Regions from separate parts of the Homo sapiens genome. Here all the other regions are linked to region 4. Evidence: fine-mapped expression QTL. A gene starts in region 4. Each other region holds a variant in brackets. All regions are shown on one strand. Distances are between the middles of the regions.

What was found. PIP is the estimated chance that this variant, and not a neighbour inherited with it, causes the effect.
Region 1: its variant is fine-mapped to the expression of AKR1E2 in whole blood (INTERVAL, PIP above 0.99).
Region 2: its variant is fine-mapped to the expression of AKR1E2 in whole blood (TOPMed, PIP 0.94).
Region 3: its variant is fine-mapped to the expression of AKR1E2 in whole blood (TOPMed, PIP above 0.99).

What each region holds. Positions count from the first base shown.
Region 1 is chr10:4,852,702-4,855,387 of GRCh38, forward strand. It overlaps a transcript of AKR1E2 not described here. Among named protein-coding and RNA genes, the nearest start is that of AKR1E2, 28 kb to the left of the region's middle. The variant T/C (reference allele first, on the strand shown) is at 1,447.
Region 2 is chr10:5,292,494-5,295,179 of GRCh38, forward strand. No RefSeq gene overlaps it. Among named protein-coding and RNA genes, the nearest start is that of LINC02561, 23 kb to the left of the region's middle. The variant G/C (reference allele first, on the strand shown) is at 1,594.
Region 3 is chr10:4,872,466-4,875,151 of GRCh38, forward strand. It overlaps a transcript of AKR1E2 not described here and the pseudogene AKR1C6P. Among named protein-coding and RNA genes, the nearest start is that of AKR1E2, 48 kb to the left of the region's middle. The variant T/G (reference allele first, on the strand shown) is at 1,148.
Region 4 is chr10:4,824,753-4,827,438 of GRCh38, forward strand. AKR1E2 (aldo-keto reductase family 1 member E2) reads left to right here and starts at 1,455. Exons shown (of 10, transcript NM_001040177.3): 1 at 1,455-1,611. The coding sequence starts at 1,573. RefSeq lists a silencer at 1,882-1,961.

The DNA of each region.
Region 1 (2,686 bases), 28 kb after region 4:
TGGAATTGCTGCTGCTTTTTTATTTTCATTTTATTTTGTTGTTTTTGTTCTAAAAATATTTTATTCTTTTTTTTGGCTTACACGGCAGAAATCCATTTTCTCACAGTTTTAGAGGCTAGAAGTCTAGGGTCAAGGTGTTAACAGATTTGGTTTCTTCTGAGGCCTCTCTCCAGGACTTTTCCTTCTGTGTCCTCACATGGTCTTCCTTCTGTGTGTGTCTGTGACCTTGAGGGATATTTTAAAGCTGAAGAGATAAAAGAGGTTGTGGGGCTATGTCTTAAGACAAAAGAACATTTAGGAAACCTCAGGAAATGATCAGAGTGGGATAGATGTTACTAGAAGAAACAAAGAAATTGAATTCAATTAGGAGTTAGAATCATTTACAAAGCAATGGGGAAAGTAAGCCCCTAAAAACTATTGTAGCATATAGTAACCAGAGCCAAACTCTCATAATATATTCCCCAAGGCAAAAGAAAAATATTTACAAGATTGGCGTTGTTTTATATGTTTGCAAACTTATTTAATAAGTCTGGCTTTGTAGATTTCATATCTGAGTCTGCATTCAATCAAAATGTCTTGGCTAAACTTCATGAAAAAACCCCAGCCTCATAAATTAGTAGTTGGAAAAAGGAGGCATATTTAGAGCTTTTTCAGATAATTGTATTTCTTTGATACATTAGACTGGACACACAGTAGTTTGTTTAAGGTTAATTGCAATATTGCAATGAGGAACTTGTTGCCAAAAAAAAAAAAAAAACCAAACTCTGTAAAATATCTGAAGAGATTGATTCTAAGCCAAATATGAGAACCATGACCCATGACACAGCCTCAGGAGATCCTGAGGACATGTGCCCATTGTGGTCTGGTTACAGCTTAGTTTTATATGTTTTAGGGAGACATAAGACACCAATCCGTATAAGTGAGATAGACTTTGGTTTGGTCTGGAAACATGGAACAACTGAAAGTGGGGACAACTGTCAGAGGCATTTAAATCAGAGCAACTCCACCTTGAATAGGGGCTGAGTAAAATGAGACTGAGACCTATTGGGCTGCATTCCCAGATGGTTAAGGCATTCTAAGTCACAGGATGAGATAGGAGGTCACACAAAATACAGGTCATAAAGACCTTGCTGATAAAACAGGTTGCAATAAATCCCCCAAAACCAAGATGGCGATGAGAGTGACCTCTGGTCGTCCTCAATGCTACACTCCCACCAGCGCCATGGCAATGTCAGGGAGCTACCCTATAGGGTCTAAAAAGGGGAGGCAGAAATAATGTACTCCTTGTTTAGCATATCATCAAGAAATAACCATAAAACTGGGCAGCCAGCAGCCCTTGGGGCTGTTTTGTCTATGGAGTAGCCATTCTTTTACTCCTTTACTGTTTTTTTTTTTTTTTTTTTTTTTTTTTAGACAGAGTCATGCTCTGCTGCCAAGGCTGGAGTA[T/C]AGTGGCACTATCTCAACTCACTGCAAACTCCACCTCCCGGGTTCAAGTGATTCTTCTGCCTCAGCCTCCCGAGTATCTGGGACTACAGGTGCATGCCACCACATCCAGCTAATTTTTGTATTTCTAGTAGAGATGGGGTTTCACCATATTGACCAGGCTGGTCTTTAACTCCTGACCTCATGATCTGCCCACCTTGGCCTCCCAAAGTGCTGGGATTATAGGCATGAGCCACCGCACCTGGCCTACTCCTTTACTTTCTTAATAAACTTGCTTTCACTTTACTCTGTGGACTTGCCCTGAATTCACTCGTGCGAGATCTAAGAACCCTCTCTTGGGGTCTTCTTCCAGACCCTTTGCTGTAACATCTTTCTTGTGACCACTGAAGGGACTATAGTGAGGAACCCCCCGCCCCGACCCAGAGGCTAACTTTGGGTAAGTGGTGGGTGGGGTCCAGTAACATTTTTCTCATGAACCACAAAAGGGCTGATACTGAGGAGACCTCCCACCCAAAGGAAATAGACTACAGCAGTGATCAGCGGACTTTGGGTAAGTGGGGTGTGTATACCCAGGTAAAGAATGGGATTTGGTAGCAGGCCTAACTTAGGGGAGTTAGGGTCTCTCCTAAGACAGAGTAGGTTAGAGGCCCCTCTTCATAAAAGGCAAGGACACTTGACTGACCTTGGGTTAGAGGCCCAACTAAGGAGGGTTAGAGGCCCCTCTGGGTAAAGTCTCTTTCGGCTAAGAATGGGTTTGGCACTATGGGATGTTAACTGCTATTGTCTTTGGAATAATCTGCCTTGCCCTCTTTGCTGATGGCTATGGGTGACAGGATTAGACATGTACAGGATCATGGGACATGGGGAGCTTTTTCCTCCCTAAGAAGGGAAACTTGAGAGCTGATGGGACTGCTGGAAAAGATCGCTTCATGACCACAAGTTGCCACCTGAACTTTTCAGTGTAGCTGCCTTTGGGTGGGTCTTTCTCTGTCCTCCCTGAGCACCTTGCCTTTCCCACCCTGCCTCAGGCAGTGCTTCACCATCCCTGCAAATGGGTTGAATGAATGGTAAAAATAACTGTTTATCTTCTCTTCTTTGTAAAGTGTTGATTAATGGAAAAAAGGATTTGTGAGGCTAGTCATAAGTTGGGGCAAATCTGATGTGCTTTGTGTGTCTTTCTGTATTGTTCTGTCATAAGGAGGAGTATCTTAGAATAGAATATGGGCTTAGGACAGCTATACAC
Region 2 (2,686 bases), 470 kb after region 4:
ATGGGGTAGACGCCTCATGAAGAGATGAATGCCCTCCCAGGGGAGGGGGGTAAGGTCTTACTCTATTAGTTCCCATGAGAGCTAGTTGTTAAAAAGAACCTGGCCCCTCCCCTCCTTCCTGCTTCCTGTCTCACCACACGATCTCCGCACACACCAGCTCCCCTTCACCTTCTTCCACACTTGGAAGCAGCCTGAGGCCCTCACCAGAAGCCCAGTCCTGAAACTTCCAGCCAGCAGAACTGTGAGCTGAATAAACTTCTTTTCTCTATAAATTACCCAGCTTCAAGTCCTCCTTTATAGCAACAATAAATGGACTAAGAGGGGCTCTAATCCCATTCATGAGGGTTCCACCCTCACGACCTAATCACCTCCACAGGACCCACCACCAAATAGCATCACCTTGGGGGTTAAGGCTTCATATACGACTTTGGTGGGGATGTAAAGATTCCATTCATTGCACAGGGCAAAGGGAGGCCATAGCAGCAGGGTCATAGTGTTCTGGGGCTGCTCACTGCCCCTCACTCCCAGGCCTGCCCCACCCCAGCCAAGGCCTTCATGCTGCTCTGGGCTACCTCTCCCAGGTCCTGCATCCCAAGCAAAGGTACAGACTCAATTGAGATCTCCTGAGACTCACTCCCTGCCCCTGCAACAAGATGGACATGTCCTTGTCAAGTTCTTCTCTAGGAAAATGTGGGCATCACATAGAGACTCGTACCTACCTGTGCAGAGGTTTTCCAGAGCCTCGATCACCCCCTCTGTCTCATCATTGGTTTCTGGCTTCAGTCTCACCTTCTTGGTGATGTCTTTGTCCCTGTGTCATTCTAATCAAAGTAGCTCCCCAGTCCCCACTGTGTCTCTCCATCTTACTCCTCAGTTTTAGTTCCTTCAGAACAATTGTGACCAGAGCAATTGCCTGAATTATTCACTTATTTTGTGGTATGTTTTCATATTTATTGACTGATTTCTCCAACACTAATCACCACACCTAGAAAAGCTCCCTAGTATGTGGTCAGTGCTCAATAAATATTTGCGGAATGAATGAAATTGAGTTCTAAGCATAGGCACAGTGGGGTTTTTTTTTTTTTTAAGTTTTTCTGTGCTCTGTTCTTATTTTCTGTGATCTGCAAACTATCTCTAAATCCTTATGAAAGATTGCGTCCAACACTGTTTTTTGCAGTGGGAAATTGAGAGGCCCATGTTGCACTCAAACAGAGCAGCAAAGCATTCGTCATCCCTCCCCTCAGGGCTGGGACTAACAGCAGGGCCTTCCTCAGCAGAGTACAGCTATGCCCAGCTGAGTGACAAATGCTCTAGTCAGAGAACACAGCAGCACAGGAGGCCAGCATGGTGGCCACAGGGGGAGTTCACGCGTGGCCGCTTGTGGACAGGTGCAGGGTGGCAGCCCTGAGGAGGTTCAGAACACCAGGGGCATCTTGAGGTAACAGCATCAGTCATGAACCAGGATATAAAAATCCATGCTGCTTATTTAAACAGGATGTGTAATCAGACGGTTGGAGTATCTACAAAGAAGCCAGTCAGGAAACAATAAAGCAACCCAGAGGCTTTTAAACACAGGAAGTCGCTACCCTCCTA[G/C]GCTAGAGAAACAGAGGTAGCAGTGCTGGAGGCAGAGCCCGGGGTCCCTGGAAGAAGCAGCAGCCATGGAGGGCCTGAGGGAGGCAGCCAGGACGACTGGAGGGATGGAAGCTGCTGCTGTGTCCCCTAGAGAAGGGAAGAAAGGCACCTGGACTCCAGCTTCCCTTTCTGCTCTCAGCAGCGCCTCACAGTGGCCAAGTCCAGCTGGAAGGCAGCAGGCAGAGAGGGCAGCACCCAGGGCAGAAGAGGCCGCTCTCCTGGGCTACAGCAGAGCAGGAGAGGGAGGAGGAGGGGCACTGAGCAGACAGGAGTGTCAGTCAATCAGGCTGACCCTGGCCCCGCATCCTCAACGGGATGTTAATGAAATACCGCCTTCTTCTGTAGTTCAGGCTGATGGGGCAGGAATGCTGGGTTATGTAAGTGTCGCAGTGTTCACTGAGGGGGATAACACGAAAAACTTATTTGTTCCTGGGAAAATTTCTTAAATCTCATTAAGGCTTCTTAAGCATTCACAAGATTAAAGCCACCTTTGCCAGAGGTTAGGATTAATAGGTGGGGCTAAATAGCCTACCTGAAATTCAGTTCCAGAAATATTTACTGAGTATCTTTTATGTGCAACTGTTCCTAGGTTTTGTTTGTTTGTTTGTTTGTTTGTTTGAGACAGAGTCTCGCTCTGTCGCCCAGGCTGGAGTGCAGTGGCGCGATCTCGGCTCACTGCAAGCTCCGCCTCCTGGGTTCACGCCATTCTCCTGCCTCAGCCTCCCGAGTAGCTGGGTGGGACTACAGGCGCCCGCCACCACACCCGGCTAATTTTTTTGTATTTTTAGTAAAGACGGGGTTTCACTGTGTTAGCCAGGATGGTCTCGATCTCCTGATCTCATGATCCGCCCACCTCAGCCTCCCAAGGTGCTGGGATTACAGGCGTGAGCCACCGCGCCCGGCCCCTAGTATTTTTTTTTAAATCAGGCATGTAAGAATAAGTCCAAGAGTTCCACATTCAATTTTGTGAGGCTATATCTTCACATGTTCCCTTGGGCTGGGACTAAAACAACAGCCTTCCTTGAAACTAGGACGTGGGAGTGATGGTACTAGG
Region 3 (2,686 bases), 48 kb after region 4:
GTTCCATTTTAGCAAGGGGGATACAAATTCTTTCTGTATATGAAGTAATAATTTTTGACATAGAAAATGCCAAGTCATTGAATAGTTATTGTTGATTAATATTACTGATATTTATTGTTAGGGGTTCCTGCCTGCATCTCCACTCTCTGTTACCCCTACCCTGTTTCTCATTTTATTATGTTATTTATTCAACCAATATGTATTGAGTACCCAGGGAGAGACTAGTTTAAGAACAAAAACAAAACAAAAACCCTGCCCTTAGAATCTAACACTCTAATGTGGTAAAGATAAAATAAGCTAAATAAACTAGTAAAATATATGGTGTGTAAGTTAGGGATATGTGTCAAGCACAAAAATAAATCAGAATAGAGAGAAAGGCTCTTCTAGGACGAGTTGCATTTTTAGATAAGTGACAGAGAAGGCATCATCGAGTGATATATGAGTGAAGACCTGAAGGATGTAAAGGAGTGAGCAATCCTGCTCTATGGGGAAAGAGATTTCTAGGCAGGGGGAATGGCCAGTGGAAAGGCCCTAAGACAGGCCTGACATATGTCAGTGATGTGGTTTGGCTGTGTCCCCACCCAAATCTCATCTTGAATTGTAACTCCCACAATTCCCATGTGTCGTCGGAGGAACCCAGTGGGAGGTGGTTGAATTATGAGGGTGGGTTTTTCCTGCGCTGTTCTTGTGATAGTGAATGAGTCTCACGAGATCTGATGGTTTTAACAACAGGAGTTTCTCTACACAGGCTCTCTTTTTGCCTGCTGCCATCCATGTAAGACGCGACTTGTTTCTCCTTGCCTTCTGTCATGATTGTGAGGCTTCCCCAGACACTTGGAACTGTAAGTCCATTAAACCTCTCTTCTTTTGTAAATTACCCAGTCTTGAGTATGTCTTTATCAGCAGTGTGAAAATGGACTAATACAGTCAGGAACAGCATGGAGGTCACTGGTGCTCCATTGGAGTCAAGAGTGGGGAGAATAGCAGGACAGGGACACAGAGAGTTAAGGGAGGGAGTGTCTATTGGCCCTTGTAGGTCTGTGTAAGGAATTTGGTCTCAACTCTGAGTGAGATGGCAGTCTCCCACATATTGAGGAGTTCCTGTGTACACCCTTTTTAACCTGTTCACTGTGGCTACTATGCCTGG[T/G]GCTGAAGTACAGAAGAGGGAGCACTACCAGGAGCCAGTTACTTTATCATAAAGATATCGGTATGAGTGTGGGGTGTGTGTGTGTGTGTGTGTGTGTGTGTGTGTGTGTCTGTGTGTCTGTGTGTATTGGGGAAGGGATTGCAGATACCAGTATGAGCCCAGTTACAGACATGATAAGTTGGAGATGCATAGTAGATATCCAAGTAGAGGCAAGTAGACACATATACAAACCTTGCTCCAGAGCCTTGAACTGGGCTGGATATGATTTGGGGAATCTATATTTAGATGATATTTGAAGCATGAGACTAGATGAAATCAACAATGATGTTAAAGTAGATAGAGAAAGGAGAAGAGGTCTAGGTTGAGCTCTAAGTCACTCCAAAACTGAGAGGTCAAGCTAATGCAGAGAAACCAGCAAAGAACATTAGAAGAAATGGCAAGGGTTGAGGGTATTTACAAGGATGTTGGTATATTGATTGACCCCATAATTTAAGTAGGCAAAGAAGGACAGAGGGCACATTAGAGGGTCAAGTAACAGTGAAAAGGTGGTACGGTCAGTGAATTATAGCTCATGTGGTAATCAAAGGATTGTTGAAGTTGGCCATGTAGAGAAGGAGCGGGACATGTAGGAGGTGATGACTATAGTGTAAGAATTTAAAATTGACATCCAGGCATGGTTATAGTAACTCGTAATGACAAGGTCTAGAATGAGACCATTAGGTTGATAGGCTGAGTTAGACTGAAGGATAAACACATTGGAAGAGGAAAGTCACAAAACTGAAAGATCAGACTATTACAAGGACTGTCTCTGTAGTGTTGAAATCAAAAGAAATTATGGCAGGTCTACTGTTGGAGAGGATGAAAACTAGGAACTAAAATCTTCGGTGGATGAGAGAAGACCTGGGAATGCAGCCCTGATGACTGCAAAGGACAGGGGTAGTGCTGGGTTTGTCTGATGACACAAAGTCCAGAGCTGAATGCTTTTAGAAAGAGAGTTCCTACTCAATATTCAGGCTTAGCACTACTAAGGTCTTGGGAAGGATAACAGCCCCAACTGGAGAGGGCTGACAGGAATCAGTGCTACCAAGAGAAATGGGGTTTCAGCTATTGGGAAAAGGTGAAAAGAACATTTAGAGAAGACAACAAAGATAAAACGGTTTTGCCAGTGGTTGAGTAGGAGTTTCAGAAAGCACAGTGAAAACATGTTGAGGTGGTGTACACAGAGCTATTTGGGAACCAGGAATTTTAGGCTCCTGTAGTGACTGAACTAACAGTGACAAAGACCATGTTAGCCTCAAGGGAGTTAAGGGGCTGGTTGGCAGGGGAGGATGGGAGTCTGTCCAGGAGCTACTGGATTGCTTGCTCTTCCCGTGTTTGGAGATGTTTACATACATATATGTACTAAATGTCACTGAACAGAAAAAAAAATAGCTTACAGATTTTTCTCTACAGCCTTCTGAGAATCATAGAGTCTAAAAGTTTGAAGGGCCATTAAAAGTCTATCTTTGGAAATAACTTTTTTCCTGCCATTGGATTTTC
Region 4 (2,686 bases):
AATACTGTTCCCAGACTTGTGCAGGGCTGGTTCCCTCACTCTTTGCCTTTCTGTTTGCAGCATAAATGCCACTTCATTGAGGTGTTGAGGATTCCCTCACTCTGTCCCTTCCGCCTCTCACCACAAGCACCTGCTTTATTTTACTATAGCACCTGCTCTTTTTTTTTCTCATGCATTTGCTTTTATGCTCTGTCCATTCATTCCTACAGATGGTGAGCTCCTGAGGGCAAGGCCCATGCAGGTCATTTTCAGCACTGCACCCTGGCCTAACTTGCCCCGTGCACAGGTGAGTGCTCCAGGCACAGTTTCTGAATGAATAAATGAGAGTATCGAAGATCCCCCTTCCCACCTGTGAGGAGCTCACATTGAGGAGATGGATGCTCACAGGAGATGCAAGTTGGGTGGGAGGCAGGGGGACACCCAGAGTGACCCTGGGAGTTTCTCTGGCTGCAGCCGCCCCATTGAGCAGAATGGGCAGCGCCTCCCCTGATGGCCAGCACTGAAGACCCAGGCAAGGAACCTAGAAACAAAGCCCTCATCTGGGTGTGGGTGTCCTCAAGGCAGTAGGACTCCCAGGGCTGAGGGGGGCAATGAAGGGGGAGCTGTAAGCTCCAGGAGAGATAAGAGGGGCGTCGGAAGGCTCCCTTGACCCCTCTTTCCCTCCACTGGCCCTGGGGGAGCCCAGTCCACTCATAAGGGGGGTGTCCAGTCCACCCCATCCACTTCCAAACGGGGGCCCGAGGCTGCAAGCAAGGACGCTCCCCTCTACATGCAGGGCTCGGCCTCCCCTGCACCACCCAGGACCCCCGCTGTCCTGCAAGCCCCAGCCGCTCTGGGCCAGGACCCAGGGAGTGGAAGGCATTTTCCAAGGGCACAGTGGCTCCCTGACGGGGAACCAAGGCCAGGCACGCTTCTCCCAGACTGGGGGCCTCGGGGCACCTGAGAATGGCCATCCTTGGTACAAGAGAGCGGGGACCCACTCCCGCGCACCCTGTGCCCCAGGGGACGCAGGACTCTGCACCCTGACCCTAGAGCTTGCCCTAGGATGGCCCGGCCATGGCGAGGCCCTGGAACGGTGAAGACTCTCTGCCCATCAACCTAGCACCTCTGCCCTACCCTCAGTCGCATATGCACCCGGTGCGAGGGAGAAGGCAACCAGGAGGTCACACCTAAGGTGGGGGCGTGAGCGGCAATGCCAGCCGATTGTAAAACCTTCCCTGCTCCTGCGTGGCTCTGCAAGCCAATCGAAAATTCCGTCGTCTATGCCGCCAGCCAATCAGGATGTCCAGAGCGCGGTGCTTCCAGCCATTTGGGACTCCAGCTGGCTCTGCGCCTCCAGCCAATCGGGGTGCCCGTCCTTAATACAACCAGCCAGTCAGTGCCCGGCGCGCGACACCAGCAGCCAGTCAGGAAGCCCTGCGTTCATGCTTCCAGCCATTGTCGGAGTGTCAGCCGTCACAAGGCACTTCCAGCCAGTCGCAACGGCGGGTCGCCAGCGCCGCAGTAGCTCGCGCGGTGCCTGTCGGTAGTCGCGTGCGGGGCGGCGGGGCGGCGGGGCGGCCGGCGGCGGCCATGGGAGATATCCCAGCCGTGGGCCTCAGCTCCTGGAAGGTGACGCGGTCGCGGGCAGGGAGGCGCGCCTGACCTAGGGGAGCGCGGGACTTGGGGGCGCCCGATGGGACCCAGGCCGGGGCTGGGGAGAAGTGCGGCGGCCTCCCCTCCGCCTGGCCGACGCCCGGGAAAGGCGCTGCTGAGGTGGCCGCCCACCGCCCACAAGCAGCCCGGCCCGGCCTTTCCTAAAACGGAGTCGGTGCTGCCCGCCGAGGCGCTCTCTGGGAGAAGCGGGAACCTCGGCAGCCAAGCCTCAGACTCTGGGGCTGCGGCCGCGGCGTTGGGCGGGGCTGCTCTGTGGAGAGGCGGAGCCCTTGAAGTTACTCAGAACTGGAGCGGGGATGCCGAGGGGAGGCCTTGGCGGCGCTGGACTCGGCCGGAACAGGGAACCTCGAAGCCTCCTCTCCAGCAAAGAGAGAAAGAAAAGTTGGGGCCGGGCGTGGGGTGCGGGCTTGTAATCCCAGCACTTTGGGAGGCCGAGGCAGTAGGATCGCCTGAGCTCAGGAGTTCAAGACCAGCCAGGTCAACATGGCGAAACCCTGTTTCTACAAAAAATGAACAAATCAGCTGGGCTTGGGGGTGCGCGCCTGTGGTCCCAGCTACTCAGGAGGCTGAGGTGGGAGGATCACTGGAGACCAGGAAGTCGATGCTGCAGTGAGCTTTGATGGCGCCACTGCACTCCAGCCTTGGGGACAGAGCCAGACCTTGCTGGAAAAAAAAAAAAAAAAAAGAAAAAAGGAAAATTGGAATTGCTGATTAGGCTTTAAAAGAAACTTTGGGATCTCATGTTGTTCCCTGTTTAGAAGCAACCTGCCCTGATGCCTGAGACATATAATCGCTCTGTGCATTTATGGGGTGCAGCGTAATGTTTTGAGCCGTGTATACAATTGCAATGTGGTTAAATCAAGCTAATTAACATATCTATCACCTCTCTCAGTTATTATTGTTTGTGGTAAGATGTTTGAAATGTCTTGTTATTTTGAAATACACATGTGTAGTAAATTATTGTTGACTGTTGGCATCCTAGTGCGCAGTAAGTCTTAAAAGCTGTGTCTCCTGTGTGTTTGAAACTTTG